2 separate regions of the Homo sapiens genome follow, and region 2 is linked to region 1. Evidence: fine-mapped expression QTL. A gene starts in region 1. The other region holds a variant in brackets. All regions are shown on one strand. Distances are between the middles of the regions. Region 1 holds the start of LRRC63 (leucine rich repeat containing 63). Region 2 overlaps LRRC63 (leucine rich repeat containing 63).

Evidence for each region.
Region 2: its variant is fine-mapped to the expression of LRRC63 in testis (GTEx, PIP 0.97).

The regions. Positions count from the first base shown.
Region 1 is chr13:46,206,920-46,215,266 of GRCh38, reverse strand. It overlaps LRRC63 (leucine rich repeat containing 63), which reads right to left and starts at 3,339. Exons shown (of 10, transcript NM_001282460.2): 1 at 3,008-3,339; 2 at 2,148-2,265. The coding sequence starts at 2,232. LOC107984578 (a long non-coding RNA gene) reads left to right here and starts at 3,415. Exons shown (of 4, transcript XR_001749863.3): 1 at 3,415-5,372. RefSeq lists a silencer at 3,254-3,583.
Region 2 is chr13:46,254,025-46,262,371 of GRCh38, reverse strand. It overlaps LRRC63 (leucine rich repeat containing 63), which reads right to left. Exons shown (of 10, transcript NM_001282460.2): 8 at 380-463. Among named protein-coding and RNA genes, the nearest start is that of LINC00563, 40 kb to the left of the region's middle. The variant C/G (reference allele first, on the strand shown) is at 4,179.

The DNA of each region.
Region 1 (8,347 bases):
GGCAAGGCTGTGGAGAAATAGGAACACTTTTACACTGTTGGTGGGAATGTAAATTAGTTCAACCATTGTGGAAGACAGTATAAGGATTCCTGAAGGATCTAGAACCAGAAATACCATTTGATCCAGCAATCCCATTACTGGGTATATTCCCAAAGGAACATAAATCATTCTACTATAAAGACACATGCACACGTATGTTTATTGCAGCACTGTTCACAATAGCAAATACATGGAACCAACCCAAATGCCTGTCAGTGATAGACTGGATAAAGAAAATGTGGTACATACACATCATGGAATACTATGCAGCCATAAAAAGGAATGAGATTATGTCCTTTGCAGGGACATGGATGAAGCTGAAAGACATCATCCTCAGCAAACTAACACAGGAAAAGAAAACCAAACACTGTGTGTTCTCACTTGTAAGTGGGAGTTGAATACTGAGAACACATGAACACAGATTGGGGAACAACACACACCAGGGCCTGTTAGTGGGTGGAGGGTGAGGGGAGAAAACTTAGAGGATGGGTCAATAGGTGCAGCAAATCACCATGGCATATGTATACCTATGTAACAAACCTGCACGTTCTGTGCATGTATCCTGCTTTTTTTTTTTTTAGAAGAAATAAAAAAACAAATTTTGATCACCTACTATGTGCAAAGCCCTCTGTCAAGAGCCTTTGGAGCAAGAGAGCTCTGCTTTCCCCACCAAAAAAAAGGAACCATCCAACCTAAAATGTCAATAGTGCCAAGGTTGTGAAATTCTGTACTAGAAGATAAACTTTAAACAAAAGATGAATGGAGAAACTACAAGATAACTGGTAACCTTGAGCTGTAAATCTGCATACTGTATTATTACAGAACAGATTGTAAATGCAGAACATTATAGAAATGTAGAAATGATGATGTAAAAATCATGTAACAAAAGTTGGGAGAGAAAGTAGGAGAGGAAATTGTGGCAGTATTACAGGTAAGTTGAGTTACCTACTGTTAATAGCCATAGGTCAAAAGATGATAATTTAACATTATAAATCAAGTTATAGACTAGGTATATTTGAACAGTATAAATGTTGACACTAAAACTGCAATCAACTAAAATCAGATGGAAGAGGAAACTGAGAAGGGGAAAATGAGAAAATATGCTAATTGTATTGCTTATAATAAGGAGGGAATAGAAACCATACAACAGAAATAGAGGATTAAGCATTAGATAAAGTTATAGTTATAAAAGTGGCTCATCTTTACTTCATAGCACTTATCACAGGGTAATTTTGCATTTACTTATATGATTGATTGATTACAATCAGTATCCCAGTGGGTAACTAATGAAGGGAACAGGTAAGGTCTGTTTTTGCTCACTAAATATATTCGGTCCTTGTTATTTGCAGTAGTTCTGTTCTACAAACAATGAATTACTCATTACTGAACCATTTCTCCTGGAAGAAATATGGGGCTAGGTTCCTGCAAACCTCTGGTTTCAACATTTTCATCAACTGATCAACACTAATTTTGTTTTATATTTGTTTCTATTTAAAGACACTTTAATAAATATAAACAGTTGATTTGTTAACATTGAACTTAGGGCCAACAACACTACTCACACCTGAAGGAAACTTATCTAACACATATCTTGTTCTCTGTAAGGCCCATCACAGCCTTCTTGTGCTCAGGAACACTAGACAGTACTTCAACACTATGCTTGGGGCCCACAGTGAAATCACTAACTAAAAGCACAAACATTCAAGAAACATAGAGCTAAACAGACAGGGAAAACAGTACCCGTTTACAATATGAGAGCTGAAACAAGAAGGTAGAGGTAGCCTTGTTCCACCTCAGCTGGAGGCATGTGTGTTGGGTGACTCATTTTCAGTGCTCTGCACATATCCACGCATGACTGAGAAAGCCCTTTGAGTACCAATTCTGGGGTTACAAGTAAATTTTATCGATGAGATAAACTTGAATCTACTAAGTCCACCAATAAGTATCAGTAAATGCATCTGTGGAATTGAATTGGATGTTATCACCTGACAACAAACATTTGTAAGTTATTAGTGAGTGTATTTATTGTGATTCTGAGCTGTGCAAGTCAAGGAATTTCTATGAAAGATACATAAATGTTAATACACATATCTGATTAATACACATACCTGTATGGGTTTTTTTCTCATGTAAAGACAGCTTAGTGAATTTTGGAGGTAAGGGTCTTCGAAGAAGCAGTGGGGGCTTTTGCATTTTAATGAATAATAAGTGCTGTTTTTCATAATCCTTGGTTTAAATGAGAATTGAAAAGGTTTTGAATATGTTTGAATTGTTGAAAAATAATAAGAATTTAGATTACATCTTAAAGAAAATCATTCTGTACCAATACTCTACTGAATCCAGGCAGAATTCCTTTATGAAAAAAAAAGAGGGTAAGAAAATAATTCTTTAAAACTTCTATTAATAGAAAGAATCCAGTTAAAATGTAGGGTTATAAGTAAACATAGAATTTTAAAAATATGTGTATTATTACTACCCAGGATCATTCTACAATTTTCCATGTTAGTACAAAGTTCAATTTGCCAATGCTATTTCAACTAGTAAATACTGATTTTTCAGAATAGTCGAAATGACATTTTTTTTCTCTCTCTCCAAAATGTTATCGCTATAAATGTAGAAAGAGAATTTGGTCAGAAATGTGTAGAAGATGCCTTCATTAGATAAGCCTCTGAAGACCCACCATATCTAACCATTCACAAACAAATTGTTTTCTTTCTATAATGGCTTGTTTTTCAACCACTATGCTTGGGCCAAAACAATTCAATCCTAAAATAAGATGGGTTTCACTATAATGAGATTTCCCAGGGCTGCTGGATCCCAACTCATACTGTTTAGAAATAATGCGAGAAGATGCACCCCCAAAATGTGCTTTTAGTTTGCAGGGCAACATCAAAAGTGCCTGGCACGGCATTATTCCATTGATAGCCTAGAAGGGAACACCCTGAAACTGCACAAATGGGCCGTTTACCGCCAAAAGATAACTGCACACAAGCGCTCAAGGTGTACTCCCTGGTCATATGTTCCACACGATGCTGGAAATCTCCCTTCCGTAGTACCCAAAGAGGGGCATGGAAGTGCTGGACTCCCACACTACCCTTTAGGATAATCGGCCGCTTTCCAAACCAACTGGCTTTTCGTCTCCTATCTCCTTTTCCTCGGAATCTAGGCAGCGAGGTAAAGGTCCAGCGAGGGTCTTCCTGCAGGAGGCTGTTCCCGAAGAAGCACCACGGATCCCCACCCTCTAGGAGGCCAAGGAGACACACCCTAGCAACCGGGGTCCGCTAAGCCAGCCCAGCCACTTGACGCGCAGGCGCGGGGGCGGGACAGGCGAGGCGGGCGCGGGACAGGCGAGGCGAGGCGGGCGCCGGGAGGGGCAGGCCCAGCCCACGGTGCAGCGCGCGCGGAGCCCTCGCCTTCCTCCGACGCACTGTGGGGCTGCAGGGGAAGCTGCGGGCCGTGGGGGCCGGAGGAGAAGCCGGCTCCACGCGCAGCTGCTGTACGGAACGCCGTGGTGACAATTGTTATTACTATTTTTATGCTTAATGGCAATGACCACTATTATTTATTATTTTCTCTCGATTACAGGATGCTTTACTTGGGTGTCTAGAATATGGGCTGGCATTCTTTAAGGCTGCACTTTTGTGCAGCCGGGTCCCGGGGCTAATTTTGCAGTGCTCTCGAAAAGCGGGCATTCGGTTTTCTTTCTCTTCCTTTCATGCAACCTGTTTTCTCTTTCTGATCCTTTAAAGTTCCTGGCTGAGGCTGGATTGTGTAGAAATAAGGGCATTAGGGATCCAAGCGGGCCATAAAAGAAACCCATTTCTCACTGTCATCGTCCTCTGTTCTGGTTATCATATTGTGACGTGTCGCCTCTGTCATGGTGTTGATGAACCTGTGTGTGCAGTCATAGATACATCGTGTGTGTTTGCAAAAATGTGCGTGTTTCTCTGGAGATTTGAGGGGGAAAGAGCACTAGAAAGAGCTCATCTGATAGATGCGGAAATCCGAACTCAGAAAGTAAACTAGGTAGAGCTTCCTTCCAGGTTTGGTTTTTTCTAAGTACTAGCGCAGGAACTTTATAACAGAAGTTGGAAAATGAGAGACTTCTGTATAAATCTTTCTAGCTTTGGGGATCTTTCAAGATTCACACCATAACCATGTCTTCCTTTTTCTCCTTAGTAGCAAACATGTTTTAAAACAATCAATGAAAAAAGTAGAAAAGTTTTAACAAAAAAGTAATCAGACTCTGGAAAATATTATGCAACTTGTTTTCCTTTACAGTAGTAGTGTACTGTTTCTTTTCCTTGTAAGTTTACTGTGTCCCAATTATACTGCTGCCCCAGACTATGAATTTATTTCCACTTTTGCTGTTATCTACACCATAGATTCATTAGTTTCTCAGAAATACAAAGCTGAAAATAAAAGGCAGCTCTGTGGCTAAGATTAGTCTCAAGTAATATATATCGTGCATATTTTGTAAATGTGAAAAAAGGTTTATATTTTTAAGCATAAAAAATGACAGTGTAAATTGAGTCAGGTACCTATGCTCTTCAAGATCGTTGGAACCATGAGAACTACAGGAATTCAGTTTTACTGACTGACGTTTGGCCTTTAAAATTTATGCTTAGCTTTGTGTAGTCGAAAGCAAGGCTTCTGAATGCTTTTTCAAAAAATGCTTTGTCACACTTGGAATCCGCAGGCATCCAGGTATCATTCCTTGCAGATTTCTTCTAGCAAGTATGAGACTAAAACCTAGGGCGGTTTAATATGTAATCTCAGGTGTGAACATTTTGTCTTCTATTTCTACCACTTAGTACCAAACATTTAGGCAAATGAGATAGTTATTATGAAAATTAAATCCATGGCTTGGTATATTTTATATGTATATATGTTATTCTAACACATCTGACTCGCTTTGTCTATGGAAATGATATATCAGTATAGGATGAGTTTAGACAGGACAAACAAAATTCAATTTAGATTATTTTATAGTTCTTATATTTTTGAAAATATTATCCCCTCAATTTTCTTTCTTCTTTTGTAAAATAACGTGTTTTTGAAATAATGAATAACTCCCTTTTGGATTTTAAGGGTCTGCTTTTTCTGATGTATGTACGGTCAGCCTATTTATTTGTTCCGTCCCCTTTGCAGTTTGGCAGAACCTTATGAAGAAGCTTCCCAAACTGAACCACAGTGCTTTCACTCTATTAGCAAATTGTACTAAAGATGCCAGCGTAATGATGAGTGCCAAGGTTATAGACATCCTGCATTTTTTAAATGTTGCTAAAATGAGATAAAAGCCTTATGCAGAAGCAACCGCAGGCACCCCGCAGGTAATGCTATCGATTTCCCTAATAAGTGGGAAACGCTTGGGGAACCTTAGATTTGCTGTTGGTTCTGTTGAAATGGTGGAAGTGATGTGAAAAGTGTTGCTAGACAACTTCATTATTTTCCATAGACCTATCTCTTATTTATTTATTTCCCTTTAAAATAGGACAGAGGTTTGCTAAACAGTTTGGCCATTGTAGTTTTAACCTAATATTTTACCTTATGGAAATAATGGAGTAATTTGTGTTTTTATGTTCATATTAATTTTTTTAAGTACTGTTAAAGAATGAATAGTTATTTTTGAGCACATATTTGTTCAACTACTGAGTCTCCAGAGTAACACAGGGCACTAAAATGCTTTTGAGAAAGAAGTGTTTTATTGGTCTGAATTTACCTGTTTATATTAATTATATGTACGGGGAAATGTCTTCTTCAGTCACAGTGGCTTAAATGTACCCACTTATTTCATGTGTTTTCATGCTGTTGCCTAGAGAATAGTTTTATATTTTCTCAAATGTTAATAAAGATATTTTGAAGAAGCTGCTACTCTTTTTATCCCCATATCTCACTGTAAAGACAAACACTTCATTTGTTTTTAATTATTTTCAGCCAATTATTTCTTTTTGTCTTTCAAGGTGATAGTTATTTCCTTTGTTTGAACTGGAGATCCTGGGATTCCTTTAAAAAAATTACTAATAAGGAAATGTCATGCAACCTTTATCATGGAATTAAAAAAAAAATCAAACACAAGGAAAGGACAATGTCTGTCTGTTTTCAAAAGTGCCTTCATGAATTTAGTCATTCATTCCAGAATCATTTATTGGAAACCTACTATGCATAAGTTACTTCACTAGGTGCTAAACTTTAAACTTTATTAAAACAACTTATAATGATTAATTTGAGGCTTTATAATTTAGACATTGAAATGAAATTTTAAATCATTTCCAAAGACTACACTTATCTGCATTATAACTACTTGAGGGTTTTTTTTAAAACAATTTTTTATTTTATTGCTTTGGTAGAATAGTGTTGTTTATTCACACTCCTTTGATTCTCAGAAACATTTTGAGGTTTTTTTTTTAGCTGCAGTGATCATTTTAGACTGTCTGCAACCAGCTAATATTAGATATTTGTATATATTGTATGATTGTGTCCTTCACCAAAAAAAGTTAAATAATATTTGTTTCCTTAATATTAAGCGCTTAGCATGAGCAATGTACATTAGTATGGGGAAGGCACTGTTTTAAATGTTGATTTTATTTTAGCTTCACAATTGTTATATTAATTGAGGATGCTGGCATCTGCATTAAATTTCAAGCACAGGAAGCATAGCACAGCTCTACCCAGCTGGGTTCACATTTGGCTGCCACTTGTCAGCCCTGTGCCCTTGGACCAGCTACTTAACCTAAGCCCCAGGGTTTCCTCATTTGTAAAACTGGGTTAAAATGGTACTTACCAAAGGGTCTTGTGAGGAGTTAAAGAGATAATCTGTGTCAGAGGCTTAGTTCTGTGCCAGCCACAGAGTCAGTGCGCAGTAGATGTTGTTAGAAAATTAAAATAAAACAGCCCAGTTTTCCGGTCTCCACACCCCTGCTTTATGTGATGATAGTTGACGTTAATTGAAATGTTGGAGGGCTATACATCCTGGGCATTTATCCACAAAATTTATCCACAAAATTTCACATTTAACTTTCCTAATGTCTCCAAATGTTGGCAACTCTAGTTTGCAGTTCTCAGACTGTGGCACAAATGCTATGCTCTAGGCAGTGTCCCACATTCTGTCACAGGTCTTTATACTCCTCTGGGCGGCACAGGAGCTGTGGGAGAGCTCGTGCCTGAAGGAGTCCTGGTACAGTGTTGTAAGGAGGCCTTGACTCTCCCCCACGTGAGTTGGGTCTGCGAGCTGCTGTCACCATTGATTGAGCCGGGCTGAATCGATGATGTATTTCAACCGGTAACCCAAGGAAGAAAGCCTCTTTGTTCTCAGCATCTTCCAGGCCACTTGGTGTGCCTAACAAAGGTGAAAAAGGGCTGCAATGTGAAGCTCCTTTGAATGGCTAGAGGGAAAGGTGTTAAATGCACATGATCTTTCTTAGGTTTTTTTCTAATGTGCACACCGGACTTTGGTAGATGAGTCTACTGAGTCCCTGTACTGGCTGGGATTTAGTCCTAAACTTAGGAGGAACATGTACTATATCAATAAAGTGTCTGAACTGCATGCTCTCTATTCAACCCTCAGCAAACACCTGTAGCAATTAGAACCGCAGGTGAGAAAAAATGCTTTATAATGACTTATTCTTCATTCTAATGTCAACATATGACCTTAAACAGTAGATATGATTTCCTTTTCAAACCTAGCATTCTGCTTATGCCTACTGCCCTATTGAGTATATGTTTTATTCGTAAGTACATGAGGCTAAAAGTTGTGTATGGGAGTAAGGGCGGGACATGTAAGAGTCCATTGTATTCTGTGGGTTGAGTGTTGGTAAAGAATTTGTATTTCTTATACCAGAACTAGACAACTAGAAGTGTAACTCACATTTCAGTGTCACATAGTTTAGTATGCTGTTGACAGTTCTGCTACATTTCTGACAATTGCAATCTCCACTTTATAATATGTTGCCAAATTTATAATACGATGCCAAATTTTATCAGGGTAGAATTAAAGTTTCAGGATATTTCTCTCTCCACCCTGCCCCAGGTAGCAGAAAATTTCTTCATTTCCTTTGCCAGGTTTTCCAGGTGAGGTAATCCCTAACCAAGGAAAAGAATATAGTGTCTAGCTCTATTCAGAAGCCATGGGGAAGACAGTTTGTGGGGCTTTATTCTTCTCCCCACTGCAATTCCAAGAAAGCAACTATGCTTGTATGAGTTTGACATATTAGGCTCTGCTGTTTGAAGAAAAGGTCCTATGGCTATAAGAGGTTGCATGCAAACCACCAAATCAGATGGTTTTAGGTGTTTTCAGCCTTGAGACAGT
Region 2 (8,347 bases), 47 kb before region 1:
CTTTTATTAATGTTAGAAAGAATTGAAGCTTTGCATTAAAATTATATTTTGTATTATTAGCATTTTGCGTAAATGTATTTCCTCACAAAAAATAAATGAAACATAATAAGAGCCACAGGTACACACACAGACAAATGGACATAAGTAGCTTATCGTTCTGTTAAGTAGTCATCTGCACTTTCTTTAAATAATTTCTGGAAATGTTATGTCTTAAAAATACTGTACACCAATCATTCAAATTACATGTTTGGTAAACTTTGTACTTCACAGATTACATTTTATGGCTATTAAATAAATGAAAGGATTGATTTTCTCTATCACAATCATTATTAAATATATAATTAAGGGGCATATAACTTTCTGTGTACTTCCAAAATACCTGAGTTTCTGAATTTCATTTGGAATAAAAGTAAGTTCATTATAGGAAACATCAAGTTCTTCAAGATAAGACAAGGAAAATAACCTTAAATAGAAAGAGAAAATTAATTGTAGAAATGATTATGTATCACCACTGGGAATAAATAAGTACTTGAGTAAGTAGGCAGGAGTATAGAAACCAGATTTCTAAGATCTTGAAATTTATATGGACTTCTTTTCATTATAGATCGTGTAATTACTATGAAAATTCCTAAGAATTACTCATCTATCCATTAAGACCAGTTTGAGATTTTTGGAGTGGACAAAGCCCTATTTAGAAAAATTTTCATTATCACTAAGATACTTTTTTGTTGTTGTTGTTGCATTAGTTTCCTAACAAATTACCATAATCTGGGTGGCTTAAAGTAACAGAAATGTATTTTCTCACAGTTCAGGGCGCCAGAAGTCGAAATGAAGGTATTAGCAGGGCTGGTTCCCTTCATAGGCTCTGAGGGAGAAACTGTCCCTTGCTTCTCCCCCAGCTTCCAGTGGTTGCCTGCCATCTTTGGCATTCCACGGCTTGTGGAAGCATAACTCCAACCTCTGCCTTTGTCTTCACATGCCTTTCTTATAGGGACAATAGCCATTGAATTTGGGGCTCACCCTTATCCAAGTTAGTATAAGTATGACCTTATATTAACTAACTGCATCTGCAAAGACGCTATCTCCAAATGAGGTCACATTCTGAGGTTCTATAAGGACATGAATTTCCGAGGGATGCTATTCAACCCACTACAATTGCATTAAGACTTTTCTAGTAAAATACCTTTAATCTTTCTTTCCATCAAGACAAGTACTTAAAGGTGAGAACCAAAGAATACAAACACTCTGCAAAAACATAGTTGTGCTGTCAGAAGCCCTGACTCCTAGGGGTTGGATGGAAGTGGGAATTGCTTCTTGAAGACTGGAATTGAAGGGCTCAGTATCATAGTCATCATAATCCCTAGTAAACACCCCCTTCTCTGTATGTGCTGTTCTCAAAGACTTTCTTGTTTTCCATGTAAATAAAAGGTGAGAAGTTATTTGTATGATTTTTAACTAAGGCATCATGAGCAGAATTTTTCGCCAACTTCTTACTGTCTTAACATGGCATATAAAGGTCCTCATGATCTGGTCCCATGCTACTTGTCCAGCTTGCCTCTCACAATCCCCCATATTCCTCTGTGGTCCAGCATTTATTTGCTAAAATTCCCTGAATTAACCAGTTATCACATATCTCTAAATAACACGTAAAATTTCCCCAAGCTTGACTCTGATCATTGTCTTTTCATTTTTTGTCTTGGCTCAGATGTCATCTCTTCCAACAAACTCTTCCCAAATCCTTCAGACTGGGTGAGATGCCTCTTCTGTACTTCTCTGCTTACTCTCTCATAGTACCCATCACATCGTGCAATAAACGTCTGCCTCCTAAAATTATGAGCTTCTAGAGGGCACGGATTCAATTTCATATTTCTATACATCCAGTGCCTTACATGCTGTCTAGTACATCGTAAGTGCTGAGTAAATCATAACTGAATGAAAGGAATGGTGACCCCAGTTAATTTAAAATAATTTGCTCTGAGAAGTTAATGAGACTGACTAGGAAAACAAAGGAAATGCCTATTCAATTCAGTGTTCATCTCTGACTTCTTATCATCTCTGTAAAGAAAATGTTAATACCATTTGCTCTATCTTTCAATTCAATATCATATCATTTTCTTGCCTCAGGCAGTTTCTGGAGTCATTCTATCTTCCCTATTACCTTGGCTCTGGCAACCTAGTTTGGTTCCAGGCTTTCACTATGGATGACATATTCCTGCTGATTGTGAGATGTAACAGGTGTAGGCAGCACTGAGGAAGCTGAATAGGTTCTAGAGTTGAAATTTATGTCATCTATATATGATTTTTACAGAGAAAATCTGTTCAGACAGCCTGTTTGGTCTGATACTCTATGTCCCACCAGTACCAAATCTATCACATTTTTTAGGATATGTAAAACTTTTTACATTTATTTCATTGCTTGATTTATTAGCAAATTATTGGCCAATGAGCTGCCTAAACTAGAGCCCTACTGTTAGCTTGCAAGATTAGACTAGCAATAATAATTTCATGTATTAACAGTGATGACCACCACACTGATATAAATATTTATTAAAAGCCTACTATATGGTAATTTAGAATGATCTTTTAACATACCAGTGTAGGATTGTTTTTTACAGGTTAAAAAAATGGAAGCTATAAGAGGTTAAGCAATGTATCCAATTTGGTATGAAATAAAATGTAGCTATCCCTTTTCATCAGATATGTGGAGGCAAGGTAATTTAATCCCCTTCTTTAATAAATAACAATATGGGAAAATAAATGTGTACAATTTCAGATCTGCTGTTAAGACACGGCTTTCAAATAGGCTGTTCGGTTCTTTTTGTTCCAAATAGTTTCTCTTTCCCGAAGAACCTACCTGCCAATTAAAGTAAATTGAGTCAAACAAGTAAGGCAAAGATTTGACTCCCTCAGTTGAAGTAGCTATTTCCTATGTCATTTTTCTCCTGCTATCCACTGAGAAAAAGATAAAGACTTTTTGTTTTAACCTTTGTGACAGTTGTTTCTGCATAACCTCAGGGCATGAGTCTAAAACATGTCTCTGTCCTTCACCCCACCTCCCTTTTTCTCCCTTTTTTATCTTTTCTACAAAAGCTTTGGGAACAGGAAAAAAAAACATTTGGATTTTTGAAGTGATTTATTATCTTCATTTTATAAGAGAGTTGAAAAGACAAATCAAAGAGCTTTTCATAGTAATAAAGTTCTAAGCATAACATGGGAGTGTTGATCCACTGGCCACTAATAGGAGGCCCCTGTTCTTTCTCCCACAGAAGCTGAGCTTTCCTGCCTCCATGCTGCCTCACACAGTATGCCCTAAGTTGCTCAAAGCAAAACCTTAGGAACGAAAATGTAGGCCTCAGTAAATGTGTGCTTTACTCAAATAGAACTTTTTTCTTTATTAACTTCTAATTTGCCCTATATTGAAACAATCAATTGTTACATAATTTCAAAAATATTGCATATTTTATTTTATTTTAGAAATTTAGGTCAAGGAAAAGAGACTAATCTGTGAAAATAATTGAAAGGATTTTAAAAATAATTTACAAGATTTTTTTTTTTTTTTTTTTTGAGACAGAGTCTTGCTCTGTCACCAGGCTGGAGTGCAGTGGTGTGATCTTGGCTCACTGCAACCTGCAACTCCCCTGGTTCAAGCGATTCTCCTGCCTCAGCCTCCTGAGTAGCTGGGATTACAGGCACACGCCACCATGCCCAGCTAATTTTTGTATTTTTAGTAGAGATGGGGTTTCACCATGTTGGCCAGGATGGTCTCGATCTCCTGACCTCGTGATTCGCCCACCCCGGCCTCCCAAAGTGCTGGGATTACAGGCGTGAGCCACCATGCCCAGCCAATTTACAAGATTTTCTTACCTAATTTTTGTAACATCCTTGAAGACAAGTATAAGTTTTCTAAACTTTCAGATGGAAACTGAAGTTAAGAGTAGGTCAGGGCTGGGTGCGGGGGCTCACGCCTGTAATCCCAGCACTTTGGGAGGCCGAGGTGGGCAGATCACAAGGTCAGGAGTTCAAGACCAGCCTGGCCAATATGGTGAAACCCCGTCTCTACTAAAAATACAAAAAATTAGCCAGGCATGGTGGCGCATGCCTGTAATCCCAGCTACTTGGGAGGCTGAAGCAGGAGAATTGCTCGAACCTAGGAGGCAGAGGTTGTGGTGAGCCAAGAT[C/G]GTGCCATTGCACTCCAGCCTGGGCAACAAGAACAAGACTCCGTCTCAAAAAAAAAAAAAAAAAAAAAAGAGTAGGTCACTGGCTTGCTAGAGTTTGTAGCATATATGGGACAGAACTTGCCTCTGAAAGTGTCTTGCTTTTTCTACTCTATCACTTTGAGTCTCATGAAACTAGAAAGATCTTGTTAGGAATGGAAAGATAACAGTGAAAGTACTCCATTACACTTTTAGTAAAACTTTGAGAAGGTACCAAAATAATATATCTGGGAAAAAAAATATATGCATATTTTAACATATGGAAACTATAAGAAAAAGACTAATAATGAAAAGAATTAAAAAGACAATCTTTTAAATACAATGCTTAGCCACCAAAATAAACAACCATTTTTCTATGTTAGATAATATCTAGAAAAAATATGTATCTTAATTTAAATCCTAACACTAGGGCTTCAAACAAATTGAGTAACCAATTGTTTTATTTAATAAAATACTGTTAAATTAGACTTGAACTGCTAAATTTACATCACAAACCCCCACTTTGTTCCAGTGTCCCTTTCTCAATAAGGCCTACCTTAGCTATCCCACTTAAAATCACACTCTCACTCCCTTTTACTGTTTGTTCTTTTTCATATCACTTATTACCTTCTCACATACTATATAATTTATTTATTACATATATTGACTGTCTCCTCCTGGGGGAATGTGATCCCACAAGAGTTGAAATCTTTGACTGGTTTTATTTTAGTTTGCTGTTACTGCCATTAACAAATTGCAACACAAACAGTGGCGTACAACAACTCAGATTTATTAATTATAGTTATATAGGTCAGAAGTCTGCAAAGGTCTCACTCTACTAAAATTAAGGCATCAGCAGGACTGCATTGCTATCTGGAGGCTCTAGGGAGAATCTGTTTTCTTACTCATGCAGGCTGTTGGCAGAATTCAGTTCTTTCCGGCTGTAGAACTGAGGCCCTTGTTTTCTTGTTGGCTGTATGCTGAAGGCCATTCCCAGGTTTTCAAGCTGCCTCATTCCTTGACTCATGGCTCCCTTCCTCCATCTTCAAAACCAACAAAAGCAAGTCAAGTCCTCAGGTGGTATCTCTCTGACAAATGCTTCTGCATCCCCCTTCCATTTTTAAGAGCTCATGTGATTTGATTGGGACCACTCAACTAATCCAGAATAATCTCCCTACTTTAAGATCAGCTGATTAGAACCCTTAATTTCATCTCCAAACTTAATTTCCCTTTGCCATGTAATATAACATATTCACATGTTCTGGTAGAATATGAACATCTTTGGGGACCATTATTCGCCCTATCACAGTTCATCCCTAAAGATTCACATCTATCCCACATGCAAAATACATTCACTTATCTCAATTTCCCGAAAGGTTAACCTTTACAGCATCAACTCAAAGTTCAACATCTCATCTAAATCTCAAAAGTCCCATATCTCATCATCTAAATTAGGTATAGGTGAGGCTCCAGATATAACCCATCCAGAAGCACAACTTTTCTCCATTTGTGGATCTATGAAATTAAAGAAACAAGTTATCTGCTCTCAAAATACAATGGTGAGACAGGCATAGGATAAGTTATAGATATTCTGGTTCAAAAGGGAGAAAATGAAAGGTAAACAGGAATTACCAATTCCAAGCAATTTTGAAATAGGACTGAGTAAACTTCATCTGGTTTCAAGGCCTGGGAATAATCAGCAGCAGCTCCCAGCTCTGCCACCTGCTTTCCAGTTTCTGCCCTCCTGGCTTCTGGCTCTGTCTTTTAGAATCACAGCTCCACCTTCGGTGCTCCTGGTTTCATCCTCCCCAGTTCCTGGCACCACCCTCTGAATCACCCTCCCTTTTTCATGAAAGTTGGCACATATATTCAGCTGTTTCCTGCCCATGGAATTTTGGAGATCTGACAGCCTTTTTTCATTTCATACTGTCTTTGTCCTTCTTAATACACTCTGGCAACATTTCTATTAGTATAAAATCTTCAAGAACCTAGTGGGTTTCCCATGTATATCATGGGTATTCATTCCATAAGACAAAAGACTTGTCCACAAATTTCGTTCCTAGTTAATCCCATTTCTATTTTTGACTTTGCTGAAATGGCTGAGGCCATGTGACATGAGGTCATCATTAAAAAGGAATGGAATACTGATATATACAACATGGGTGAATCCCCAAAATGTATGTTGAGTGAAAGATGTCACACTCAAAAAATCATTTGTTGTATCAATCAACTTTTATAATTTTCCAGAACAGGTGAAATAAGTCTATGATGTTAGAAGTCTGGGAATTGACTAGAAATGTACATGGGGACATTTCTAGGGTAAACTTTCTAGGATAATGGGAATACCCCATATCTTGTTTTGGATAGTAGTTATATGGGTGCGTATATTTGTTAAACACTTTAAATCAAATACCTAAGATTTGTGCATTTTATTGTATATAAATTATACCTAAAAATTTTAGAAAGAAGGAAGACTAGGAGGAAAGATGAAAGCATTGAGGTTACTAATAACTATATATATATATATATATATTTGAGGCAGGGTCTTACTCTGTTGCCCAAAGCTCACTGCAGCCTCAACTTCCCAGGCTCAAGTGATCCTCCCACCTTAGCCTCCTATGTAACTGGGACTACAAGTACATACCACTGTGCACAGCTAATTTTTCGTATTTTTTTGTAGAGATGGGGTTTTACCATGTTGCCCAGGCTCTATGTATTTTTTGTTATAGTAAAATATAGATAACATAAAATCTGCCATTTTAGCCATTGTTAAGTGTGCCATTCAGCAGCATTAATTACAATTACAGTATTATGCAACCACCAGCACTATATGTATTTCCAGAACTTTCCCATCATCCCAAACAGAAACTCTATATCCATTGAACAGCTACTCCCAATTCTCCCCTCTCTGCTATACCTGAGCCCCCAGTAACCTATATTCCACTTTCTGTGTCTGTAAATTTGTCTATTCTAGGTACCTTATATAAGCACAATAACACAATGTTTATCCTTCTGTATCTGACTTATTCCACCTAGCATAATGTTTTCAAGGCTCATTGTTGTTGTAGCATATACTAGCATTTCATTCTGTTTTCAAGATGAATAATGTTCTATGTATGTATATATCACATTTTGTTTATTCATTAATTAATCTGTTAATGGACATTTGAGTTACCACCTTTTGATTATTGCGAATAAAAACAATTAGGTTTTCCACTGTTTTGTTGATGGACATTTGAATTGCAGACTTTTTCAGGATATTGCAGATAAAACTGCTATGGACATTCCCAAAGAAGTCTTTTTATGGAGGCTAAAATCTACCTTCTCCATCTTACACATGAATGACTGAGCTACTGAAGATAATCAGCAGAAATGCAGATTCGTGTCACCATGAATCCTTGGTTTCCAGTCTCAGCTAAGCCCACAGCATCATCTCTCAAACATTCACTTTCCTGTGCTCTGTTCTTTTCTGTTCCTCTCAATATCAACACTAAATCATCACAACTTTCTTTAAAACTTCTTTTCAATCATTATTCTTCTTGCTCTCAAAGATTATCTGAAGTTATTTCATAGTAACCTCTCTCAACTGATGCATTATAGGAGCTAAATAAATCTTTGTTGACTAAATGAATTTCCTGTTTTCTTACCCATATAACTATATATTTTACATGTTCATTTTTAGGACCTACCTCCAGTTTTAGGAGATAATGGTTACTCCTCCTGTTCAAGACCAGAATCTCCACCTGAGCTGATGACTTCTTCCCCTCCCATCTCCTGTGAAATTCTGCTTCATCTGTCATCCTTCCACATCTTCAATCTATTCCCTATTGGTTTCTTTCCAACATCCTGTAAATATGCCCGAGTCTTTAAAAAACTAACAATAAAAATGTTTCTAAGATCCCACTTTCTCTATAGCTTTTGTCTAATCACTCTTCTCACATTGCATCTAAAGCTCTACAAAGAATGGTCTACACTCATTATCACCAATTTCTTCCCATTCCATCACAACCCACTGCAAGCTGGCTTTTATTTCCATCATTCCACTAAAACTGTTCTCACCTTTACTCTTACTGAGCTTCTCTGTTGTATTTGACACTGTTGGTCATACTTCTTTTTCAAAATAATCCACTTCCCTGGCTTCCATGATACTCTTG